2 separate regions of the Homo sapiens genome follow, and region 2 is linked to region 1. The links come from fine-mapping of genetic effects on gene expression. Tissue or cell type: blood mononuclear cells. Region 1 holds a variant in brackets; the other region holds the start of a gene. All regions are shown on one strand. Distances are between the middles of the regions. Region 1 overlaps PCMTD1-DT (PCMTD1 divergent transcript). Region 2 holds the start of PCMTD1 (protein-L-isoaspartate (D-aspartate) O-methyltransferase domain containing 1).

Evidence for each region. PIP is the estimated chance that this variant, and not a neighbour inherited with it, causes the effect.
Region 2: PCMTD1 starts here. The variant in region 1 is fine-mapped to the expression of PCMTD1 in blood mononuclear cells (TOPMed, PIP 0.99).

What each region holds. Positions count from the first base shown.
Region 1 is chr8:51,922,668-51,928,043 of GRCh38, forward strand. All of the region lies in intron 2 of PCMTD1-DT (PCMTD1 divergent transcript), which reads left to right. Among named protein-coding and RNA genes, the nearest start is that of PCMTD1-DT, 26 kb to the left of the region's middle. RefSeq lists an enhancer at 2,363-3,562. The variant A/G (reference allele first, on the strand shown) is at 3,068.
Region 2 is chr8:51,896,005-51,901,380 of GRCh38, forward strand. PCMTD1 (protein-L-isoaspartate (D-aspartate) O-methyltransferase domain containing 1) reads right to left here and starts at 3,032. Exons shown (of 6, transcript NM_052937.4): 1 at 2,926-3,032. PCMTD1-DT (PCMTD1 divergent transcript) reads left to right here and starts at 3,311. Exons shown (of 4, transcript NR_189279.1): 1 at 3,311-3,842. RefSeq lists a silencer at 2,539-3,228 and enhancers at 3,269-3,558, 3,729-3,788, 4,089-4,148.

The DNA.
Region 1 (5,376 bases):
TGAATATGAATCGCTTCCAAAAGTAGAGCTGCCCCACCAAAAAGATAGCTTACAGCTTGCAACTGTTAATGTGAAAAGAAGTAGGTTTTTTGTTTGAGTCTTTGTATTGTTGAGGCGCTTTGTAATGGTAGTGTCAACGAAAAGTCAAACTCTGTAAAATATTTAAAGATATTTATTCTGAGCCAAATATGAGTGACCATGGCCCATGACACAGCCCTCAGGAGGTCCTGAGAACATGTGCCCAAGGTGTTTGGGGTGCAGGTTGGTTTTACAAATTTTAGGGAAGCATAATCTATCAATCAAATACATTTAAGGAATACATTGGTTTGTTCCAGAAAGGCAGGTCAACTTGAAGGGGGCGGAGCTTCCAAGCTATAGGTAAATTTAAACATTTCTGGTTGACAGTTGATTGAGTTTTTGTCTAAGGACCTGGGATCAATAGAAAGCAAACATTCAGATTAAGATTGTTAGGGACAAATCACCCTGAAAGTGCTTCTTGGTACTGCCAACAACCCCCCTCTAAACTTCTCCGGGCTACCCCTCCCCTTCCCCTAAGACTTTTTACATTTCTAAGCCCTTATTTAGGCACCGTGGTGGAGCCAGCAGACCACTTATCAGACCTTGCTGCGATGAGCAAATCCCAATTACAAACCATCCAGACCACACGGGGGAGGTCGTGGGAAGCATAAGCAAAATTTACCTACACCCCCATGTATCATAAACATCATAAGGCGGTTTGTGGCAGAATTAACCAGCAAACAACCCCAGGGTCTCTCTGCCCCGTATAAACCCCTCATTTTTTAAGCTCAGGGCTGCCTCCTCTGTCTGTAATGGAGCAGCCGGCAGGTTGAATAAAGGTTTGCCTGAACTTGGGTCTCTCTCTCTTGTCCTTTCTCTTGGCTGACCTTACAAAGATAGAAGATTGTGGAAACCAAAGTTCTTTTGAAGTCTCATGGCGGCTCCCCTTAGAAACAATAGATGACAAATGTTTCCTATTCAGACCCTTTAAAGAGTGCTAGACTCTCAGTTAATCTATTTAGAATTGGAGGGGCCTGGAAGGAAAATGTCTAGTTGTGTTAATAGGGATTCTTTACAGATACGAATTTTCCCCCACAAAGGATGGCTTGCAGAGCTATTTCAAAATGTGACAAAAAACATGTTTTGCCGGTAAAATATTTTTATTTTCTCCCTTGTCTCATAATGTTATTGACAGAACAGGAGCATCGCCATCTTGGATGAGCACCACCATTTTAAAGTTCAGCTTGATCAAAAGCTGCCCAAATCCAAAGGGCGTCAGCCTAATGGCTAAGGTCAGCATGATCATAAAGCACAAATGACATTTATCACCAGAAACATTCCAAACATAAGATAAACCTGTCCCCGACCAGAGACATGCCAGCCCCGAGATTACCTCCCCTCCGGCTGGAGAGATGTCAGCCCCAAGATAACCCCCGTCCTGCCGGAAAGATGTCAGCCCCGAGATAACCTCCCCTCTGAGCAGAGACATTCCAACCCCACCATAAACTTCTCCCCTACACGGAAACATTCCAAGCTTGTGATAAGCTCTCTCACCCTAAAACCAATAAATTCTCTTAGTCTGTAAGAGATAGCATTCCTGACCAAAATCGGCCAGAAGCCCCTCTCAGGTTTATTCTCCAAAATAAATATGTCTTTGACTGTGGAGCCACTTTTCATGTTTCTTTCCACTTTCTTTAATTTACAGTTATGCCAGAATCAGGTTTGGAAAATAAGTCACAATATATAGGGTTAAATAAAACCTGTCTGATGAGAATCTATGGTTTGTAGGGCATGACTCCCTAGACACCTTAGATAGGAATTTGGGCAAGATAAAAAAAAAATCAGAGTTTAGTCATCAGTAGCTTAGCTTTTTACCCTAATAAAGTAAGTCTTAAATAAGTATTTGTTGAACAAAATGTTAGGGCTTAGAAACTGATACTCCAAGATATGGTAGTTTGATATGCTGAACTGAAGGAGCCTCAAGGTCTCTCTGACTCTCCCCTCTCTCTAGTCTCTCAATCCTCTGTCTCTCCCAAAACACAGGCTAAAGTTGTTCTCTGAAGTTCCCTTGTCTGCCCAAAGTCCAGACCTACCAAAGAAGAAAACAATTATCTCTGATTTCTTCCCTGAGTTTTCATTAACTGAACTTTTTACTGAAACACCAGGGATTCTGTCTAGGACTTGCTGCTCCATGTACAGAATGCCAATCACTGACTCAATGAGTATTGCCAGGGAAGAAGGCTTTATTGGGTGCTCAGTGGAGGAGAACAGGAGGTCAGTCTCAAATCTGTCTCTCCAACTGACCAAAATTGGGATGTTTATGATGCAGGATTTTTTGCTCCTTAGTTCACCTAACATCCTGGTTCTTGTTACATAACCAGGAAAAATTAGGCATGTGGAAACATTGAAAGGTGAGGAGAGCAGAATTTATTAAAAGAAAGCTCTCAGTGAATAAAAAGGGGGTCCTGACAGCAGGCTCCCACCTCACAGATTGAATATCAGGGCACCACACATACAAGCTGAGGAGTCCAGGCTCCTCCCTACTGCATAAGGTGCTGATCCCTGGTGGCTCCACCCCATACTCCCAGTGTGCAGGCAGGCCCCCAGTCCATTGTGGGCATGTCCAGACAAGGCCCTGGGCATGTTCCCCCTCTGCACAAAAGCATCTGATATGAACACTTGTGGGATGGATTGGAGATTCTCCAGGTAGCCTCCCTTATCTGCCTCCTGCATCTATCATTTATATAGAGGGGAAGGCAGGGAAAACAGAAATTAGGGAGGAGTAAGGAAGCAATTATGATGGATACGAGGTCTGGCATCTCATTGTCTGGATGCGGTGATCTGACGAGTTTTAGTCCCTTGCCTGAGGGTCAGTTTCCTGAAGAAGGAACACAGTTAAGACAAATATAAGTTTTAAATATTAAGATGGAGGGTCCATTTCTGTGTTATTCAAAAACCCATATATATCATTTCTATGAGACAGTTGGGCCTATTTCAAACTCATATCACAGGAAGCAAGAAACCATTGTCTGCCCTGTGGGCCCAAACA[A/G]AGTTTGTCCCAGGTTACTGAGTGTTTTTCAAGCCCATCGAATTCCCCTAAAACTAATTTACTACTCCCTAAAATAATCTACACTTTTCCATCGTCCTTTCCCCTAAGAAGAAAGGTATATAACCATCTGTATACTTTATGCGTGATGCAGCAATCACTCTGTGATTTCTCCTGCTCCCTGCACACTAATCAATGGGTATGCCATTTCTCCTATCAATCTGCCTTTGTCAGTTTATTTTCAGTGAACCTTCAGAGGTTGAAAGGAAAGTTTTCATTAGTCCCTACAGAATGAAAGAATGAATAATCGTATTTCCATTTATAGTTGGGGAAACAGAATAGAAACTTACAGGTGTTGCTCAAGGTCACCTAATTTTGGATTTAATCCCAATTCTCATTCCAAAGCCCATGATTTATTCTGTGCATTAACAGTTCATTCTTTTTTTAAAATAATTTTTTTGTGTGTGTTTATAGAGACAGTGTCTCACCATGTTGCCCAGGCTGGTCTCAAACTTCTGGGCTCAAGTGATCCTTCTGCCTCAGGCTCCCAAAGTGCTGGGATTATAGGCATGAGCCATCACACCCAGCTAGTTGTAACTTAAGCTTTAGCCACATGAAGACTACCAGAAGAGCTCCTCAGGTTGAGACAGAAATAATACAGGGTGGTCACAGGAGAAAATTCTAGGCAGCAGTTTCACATGGCTAGCCAAAGAAAACTGTTGAAATGGCTGCATGAGCTAGGGGATGAGAAAACCTGAAAACCAGGGAGTGGACCAAGCTTACTGAGACCAACTGGACCCAACATGGTGCTGGATTTGACCTAGGTTTTACCTAGGACCTCATTATATGCTCAGTAAAACATTAAATCCATTACCCACCAGTGCCATGACAGTTTTGGGAACATCTATATTTGGGGTAAAAATAGGTGGTACCGCAGTTCCAAGGAATCTTCACCTTTTTCCAGGAATCGGTGTGAATATTCCTTGGTTAAAGAAGTAGAAGCCTCAAACCCCATTGGGTGCTACTCTCTCTCGAGTACAGTTGCACTCCCTACTCCCCTTTCTTGATTACTTACTTCTTGCTTCGCAATAAATCCCCATAGCCTGCGAGGTCAAGGTTACAGTGAGCCTTGACTGTGCCACTGTACTCCAGCCTGGGCAACAGAAGGAGACACTGTCTCAATCCATCCATGCATCCATCCATCCATCCATCCATCCGGGTATTGCAAGGAGTTAAAAAAAACTCCCACACAAATTTAGGTTTTATTTTCAGATAAGCTCTTCTATCCATCCAGAATGAAAAGGTATCACAGGTTACTCACTTGAAGCTGCATCCTCCTTAGAGGAACTTTCACAGAAGCTGTGTCCCATCCTCCCTTTGCTGATTTGAAGCCCAAATTTCAACCCATGCAGAATCTTTTAGGGAAATTCTCAAGACCGTAATTATATTTTACCACTATAAAGGTGGACTGTAGTTTCTGCAGGTGACCACGTTGAAAAACATTTCTTCTTTTACTGAAAATTAAACTACTTCCTACGTATTCTTTGCAGAGAGGACCAAGAGCTGGCTCTGAGTCTCTAAGTCCCAGTAGTGTGGGGAGTGACAGCCTCCACCCTAGTGTCCTGGGCTCCACCCCCAGCAATTTGAAGTTGCAAGGTCTCAGACAGCACCCAGAGTTTTGGGGACTTCTTTTCCAAGTGTGAAAGGAGGCTCCTTTCCAATCATTATGTTTTAAATTTACTTCAGAGCTCCAAGGGACCACTGACAGAAGAGTTTTTTAATAGTCTTTTTATTTTTCACCCAGAGTAACATTTAAAAATAACAAGATATTTTATGCATCAGTTGCTTCACATCTTCTACTGGAGCAAACTTTTTGTTGGTAGTGTTTTGTTGTTGGCTGATGTTTCAAAGTTCCAAGAACTTGAGCCTCAAACCTCACAGAGAAGTGACTACAAAAATGTTCTTTCCTTATTTATCATGAGGCTAACAATAGTACCTACCTCACAGGCTCATCTAGAAGATTCCATAAGTCAACGTTGATTGTAAAGCACTCAGGTCACTGCCTGGCACATAAGGAGTGCCATTTATCAGTTTGTGAAGTGAAACCATGGTCAAGTTTTGTAGTGGCTGCTTTGCCCTGGCCAAGGGAAACTGCTGCTTTCTTTTATAGCTGTTAGTAGCATTAAATTGCAACTCTACCTTTCTTATTTAGGGGTACTAAGGGGGGAACTTCACTTTGTGACAAAAATATAACAAAATCTTAAGCATACAGAAGTGCTAGAACAAGGTGTAAAAACAAAAAGAACATCTGT
Region 2 (5,376 bases), 27 kb before region 1:
GAGCGATCTTGGCTCACTGCAACCTCTGACTCGCAGGTTCAAGCGACTCTCCTGCCTCAGCCTCCCGAGTAGCTGGGATTACAGATGCCCACCACCAAGCTCGGCTAATTTTTGTATTTTTAGTAGAGACGGGGTTTTGCCATGTTGGCCAGGCTGGACTCGAACTCCTGACCTCAGGCGATCCACCTGCCTCAGCCTCCCAAAGTGCTAGGATTACAGGCGTGAGCCACTGCCCCCGGCCGCCACATTTCTTCCAACTATGTAGTTGCCACATCTAGTGGAAAATGAAAAAAGATTAATAAACCATATTATGACACCCTATTGTCTGTCATTATGCATTTTAAGTGACTACCAAATATTTTAAAATACCAATAATTACATAAGTAAATTTTAATCCTTTTAGACTTTTTTAGGGCCCTCTTGGTATTCTTTCCAGCACACTAATTTACAAAAAAGTTCAACTACGTTCATAAAAATGTTTACTGATATGAGACTATCCTTCCGAGTTTGTAAGCAATACGCAGCTGTGAGAGCTACAATTTACAATAACATCCCAATTTACCATGGCACCCAGCAGTGTCTAAAGTAACACAAATCCCCATCTTCTTGGTTAACAGCATAAGATCAAGGAGTTTAAAATTTTAGTAATATGCCACCAGAAACCTCATCTAAAAAAATACCATTATAGTTTCACACTATATTCTCTAGACTATTTTAAATGCATGTGATTACATTCATGTAGTTATTCTGTAAGGAACATTTCAAAGAAAGCAGAAAAAACCGTAAGGGCAACAATTTTTCGTTCATAGGAGGTAAAACAAGAGCAGAAAACACAGGTTCTTGGATTAAGCACTCCTGAATATAAACACGCACTATTACAAAAAAAAAAAAAAAGCAATGGGATCTTGAGCAGTTCTTTTACTCAAAGCCTCTATTTATTACTCTATAGAATGAGAAGAATGTCATTTATGTTGTTATGAGAAATATATGAGCATATTATTACCAAAAATAACTAAAATGTCATGGATTTTTTTATTCCTTTCGAGCACAGTTTCCAAATCATAAAATACTACACAATTTGGCTTAAAATTTCAGGCTATGCATGTTTAGAACCAGACGTTGTTCGTGATTATCTTCCTCAGTTGTTCTTTCCCTGGAAGCTAGCACCAAGATGAACACAGTACATTTTTAATAAATACAAGCTAGTGATTAAATCAACAAAGCCTCCAGCTCTTCTGCACACAGAAATACAGTATGCAATGGGAATTTCCTAGCTTTCTGTCTTACTTAATAGTAGGCAGTGTAGTATCACCCCTCCACTTCCAGTTTACTCCCTATAGCTTACTTACCAAAATATTTAATCCCTGTTGCTTTTTTTTTCTTGTCTCAGGCTAGGGCCACTAGCTTTCTATCTTTCCTACCTTACCTTTCCTTCACATATTAGCTACTTCATGTTAAAGAAATTACAAGTGTTCAACTGACCATATGGAATTAAAATTTACTTAGAAAAAAATGAAATAAAAAAAACCAAAAAGTAAACTAATTCAGCAACTTTATGTTTTATGGAGTCATCTAGCCTCATGTAAACTACCATTAAGCAATACGTAAACATATTAATCTGCTTAATACGAAAGTAATGTCGTCTGGCCGCAGACATTCTGAAAGTTTTGCCACATTGTTTCAAAATATTGGCTTGTAGCCCTTTTCAAAGCTACTGATTATTGAAAACTTGGCGACCATGTTTAACAATGAAGAAAAGGCTTCCCCAAGCCTACGTAGATTGGATTCTCTAATACATAGTAATAATGTTTTTTAAAATAATGAGGTGTGTAATAAAATGGAGGAATATCCATGATGCATTGTTGGCTAATAAAACGATATACTGTACTATATATGATCCCAATCTTGTTTCTAAAGCACACTCATTAAATGCACAGAAAAAAAAAATCCTGAATAACTACCCACCACACTTGGAGACTGGCTACCCTGGGTAGTAAGAAGGAGAAATATGGGGGGAAGGGCGCGAGAGAGGGCAGGTTTCCTCATTGTTTGGCTGCTTCATGTTTTTCTCAAGGAGCAAGCAGTACTTTTGTAATTAAAAAAATAAATAGGGGAAAAACACTGCTAAAAGCATACTTTTTTCCTCCGTAGCAAATTCTTCTGATTTGTAATGTTAAAAATATATCTCTGGTTTCTCGATTCTAAAAAGAGGACACACGAAAACAAAATTATAGAAGTTCCAAAAAATCTTGGATTTGCAAAATTACTCCCTCGGGTTCTGCCCGTGGGTCCTCCCCATGCCGGTGTCTGAAATTCCCCAAGCAAAACGCGGGCACTGCACTTCCCCGGAACGGTAGTAGACGCTCAAAAACACAAAAAGAGGCCTTGGCGCCTGCTATAACCTCTCAGTCCCCTCCCAGCCCCCGAGACTTCCCCGAGTCTACGTAGACTGGATTCTCTGCCTCCAAAACCAAAACAGAAGTCACTGGGCGGATCCAAAACGGCCCTAAGGGGCCCGCGGGCATCTCAAGACGCCAGCCTCGGGACTCTGGTCCCCAAGCCCAGGTCAGAGCCGAGGACGAGCCGAGGACGGGCCGAGGACGCGGCGCCCCGGCCTCCCTCGGGCCCCCGACCTCCCCGGCCCCAGGGACCCCGGCTCCCGACCTCCAGGCTTCGCTGGGCCCCTTTCGACTCCCCGACCTCCCAAGTCCTCCGCCCCCGGCCCGTCCTTCCCCCAACCTGCCCCGCAGCGCCTCAGTTTCCTGGCCCCCGACCTGCCCGCCCTTAAGTCCCCCTGCCCCCGACTCTTCGGCTGCCGTCCCCCTGGCCCTCTGGCCTCCAAGCGCATCCCAGTCGCCCGCCCGGCCCTAGCACGCGGGACTCGCACACCCCACGACCCCGAGCCCCCACTGGCGGCGGCGTTACCTGTGGCGCGGGCAGCGGCGCGCAGGCCAGGCGCTAGGACTCGGCGGGGTCCGCAGCAGCCAGACGCCGCTACCACCACAATAACAACACGGACGCCACCGCCGAGTGGAGAGGCGGGGCCCGGACCCGCGACTGGAGCAGCCAGAGCCTCCCGGACTCCGGAGCCGCCGGGGTCCGGGCATGCGCAGAGAACCACGGGCACAGGGGCAGCTCCCCGCGGACGCCAAAGTCAACAAGGCCGGGAGACGCCCCCATCTGGCCCCGCCCCCCTCAGGGCTCGCTCCGCCCCCAAGCCCAAACAACGCGAGGCCTTGACAGGCCAGAAGACGATGGCGGTAGGGGAGATCACGCGAGAGCATGGCCTCCACCTCTCCTCCCCACCGCCATCTCCACGTTCTCGCACCGGCGCTGGGGTGCAGGCTTTCAGTGGTCTCAGGGCTACGGCTTGTCGGTGCCTCGCCGCACAGTCCCCTTTGCATTGAAGGACACGGTCTTACGGTGTAGGAGCATTTTTGAGGTGCATTCCTGGATTTGGAGGCGAACCCCCAATGGTTACCTCCACAGAGGCTTTGCGAAGGGCGCTCACTGACTTAGGTGAAGAGCGAAGGCTCAAGACTGTGCCGCTTTATAGTGGCCCCTTGACGTCCAGAAGTTCCCCCCAGCGCCGGTCATAAGCACTCCCGCCGCCTGGGCCCCGCCCTGCCTGCCAGGCGCCCTCCAGCCTCAGCTCCCGGACGCCCGGCGTGGCCGCTTTCTCGCGTCTTGCTGACCCGGGCCGGGGGCGTGTGCTCCTCCTGCAGCGGACGGAAGATGCTGGGCCACGCAAGTTTCCCTGGGCTTGGTTAACCACCCCAAAGCCCATTTCCAGAAGGAAAGGGTGTTGAGGAGGAGGGATAGAAAGTCGAGAAGAGGGCCGGGTGAGTGGCTCACGCCTGTCATCCCAGCACTTTGGGAGGCCGAGACAGGCGGATCACCTGAGGTCAGGACTTAGAGACCAGCCTGGCCTACATGGTGAAACCCCGTCTCTACTAAAAATACAAAAATTAGCCGGGTGTGGTGCCGTGCGCCTGTAGTCCCAGCAACTCGGGAGGCTGAGGTAGGAGAATCGCTTGAACCCGGGAGTCGGAGGTTGCAGTGCTGAGATGGCACCTGGCCTGGGCGGCAAGAGCGAAACTCCATCTCAAAAAAAAAAAGAAGAGGAAATGAGGCATAGGGGCAGGCGAGCCGGGAAAATATTGCTACTAAGGATCCTAAGCAGTGAACATGCTGTTAATACTTGTAAGACTCCTAGCAAACTGCATTTAATTTTTTAAATTAGTTTTAGTGTACATAAAGGCATGTCTTTTCCAAATACTGTACTTTTTGAAGTGTTCTTTGTTGTTCATTAATCTTTGTGCGTTTCCCTTCAGTCTCTAATAGTAGGTTGTAGCATGATTTGCTTCCATCGTGTGAATTCTGTTCGGTTTTGATTTTCAAGTATGAGAGTGAGCGTAAGCTACCCTTATAGGTTACCTAAGGTAAGTTAGAATTAGAACGTCTTTATGCTAGGGTTACTACTCCCCACCATAACCAACCATCTGCAAAAGCGTTCAGAAAGAACATGCTAGCAAGGTCAAAAGCTTCAAATCACGAAATAAGAACTTGAAAACGAGCAAAATTGCTGCTGAGGCGCTCTGCCATTTAACTCAAAGGCTTCACTTTATTTAGGTTTAAAGTATGAGTGCATATTCAGTGGACATTGAGCTCCGAACTGTTCAAAATCTCTATTCATCTGCATTCTGGAGTAGAGCTGCGGGTCACATTATTAGCTCCATCTTTGGATTTCTGCCTGGACCCAGGGCACTCCTAACCGTTGTGGGATCATATAACAATCTTACAGGATGAATTTTCTGTTAGTCCAAGCAGAAATTTTGGCACATGAAAACTATCTTACCATAAACAAACAAAAAAAGTACAAATGGTAATCTAAGGAAAATAGCTAAAATCATTAAACAACTCTTACAGCCGTTTCCCCTGTTTTCTCTCCATTTTTTAAAAGCATATTTTCCTTTACTTTCTTCCTTCTGCTATGGGAATTTTTCAGGGTTCTAGACCTTTTTTCTCTTCTGCGGCTGGAAAGTTAAACACAGGTCATTTTTTAAATAAGACTGCTAGTAAATACCTTCTTAATAAACAACACCAAATGCTAGTCTTGTGGGTGAGTAGTTGAACAGCAAGTAAAGCACTCTATCACCTGTAATTTTCCTGTGGTAGGCACACCCCATCTCTACCTTCACGTAATTTCTGATTATGCCTCCATACCTTACACATATAATTCATTTGTGGGTGGGGGCGACAGAGTCTTTTGCTCTTTTGCCCAGGCTGGAGTGCAGTGGCAACCTCTGCTCACTGCAACCTCCACCTCCCGGCTTCAAGCAGTTCTGCCTCAGCCTCCCAAGTAGCTAGGATCAC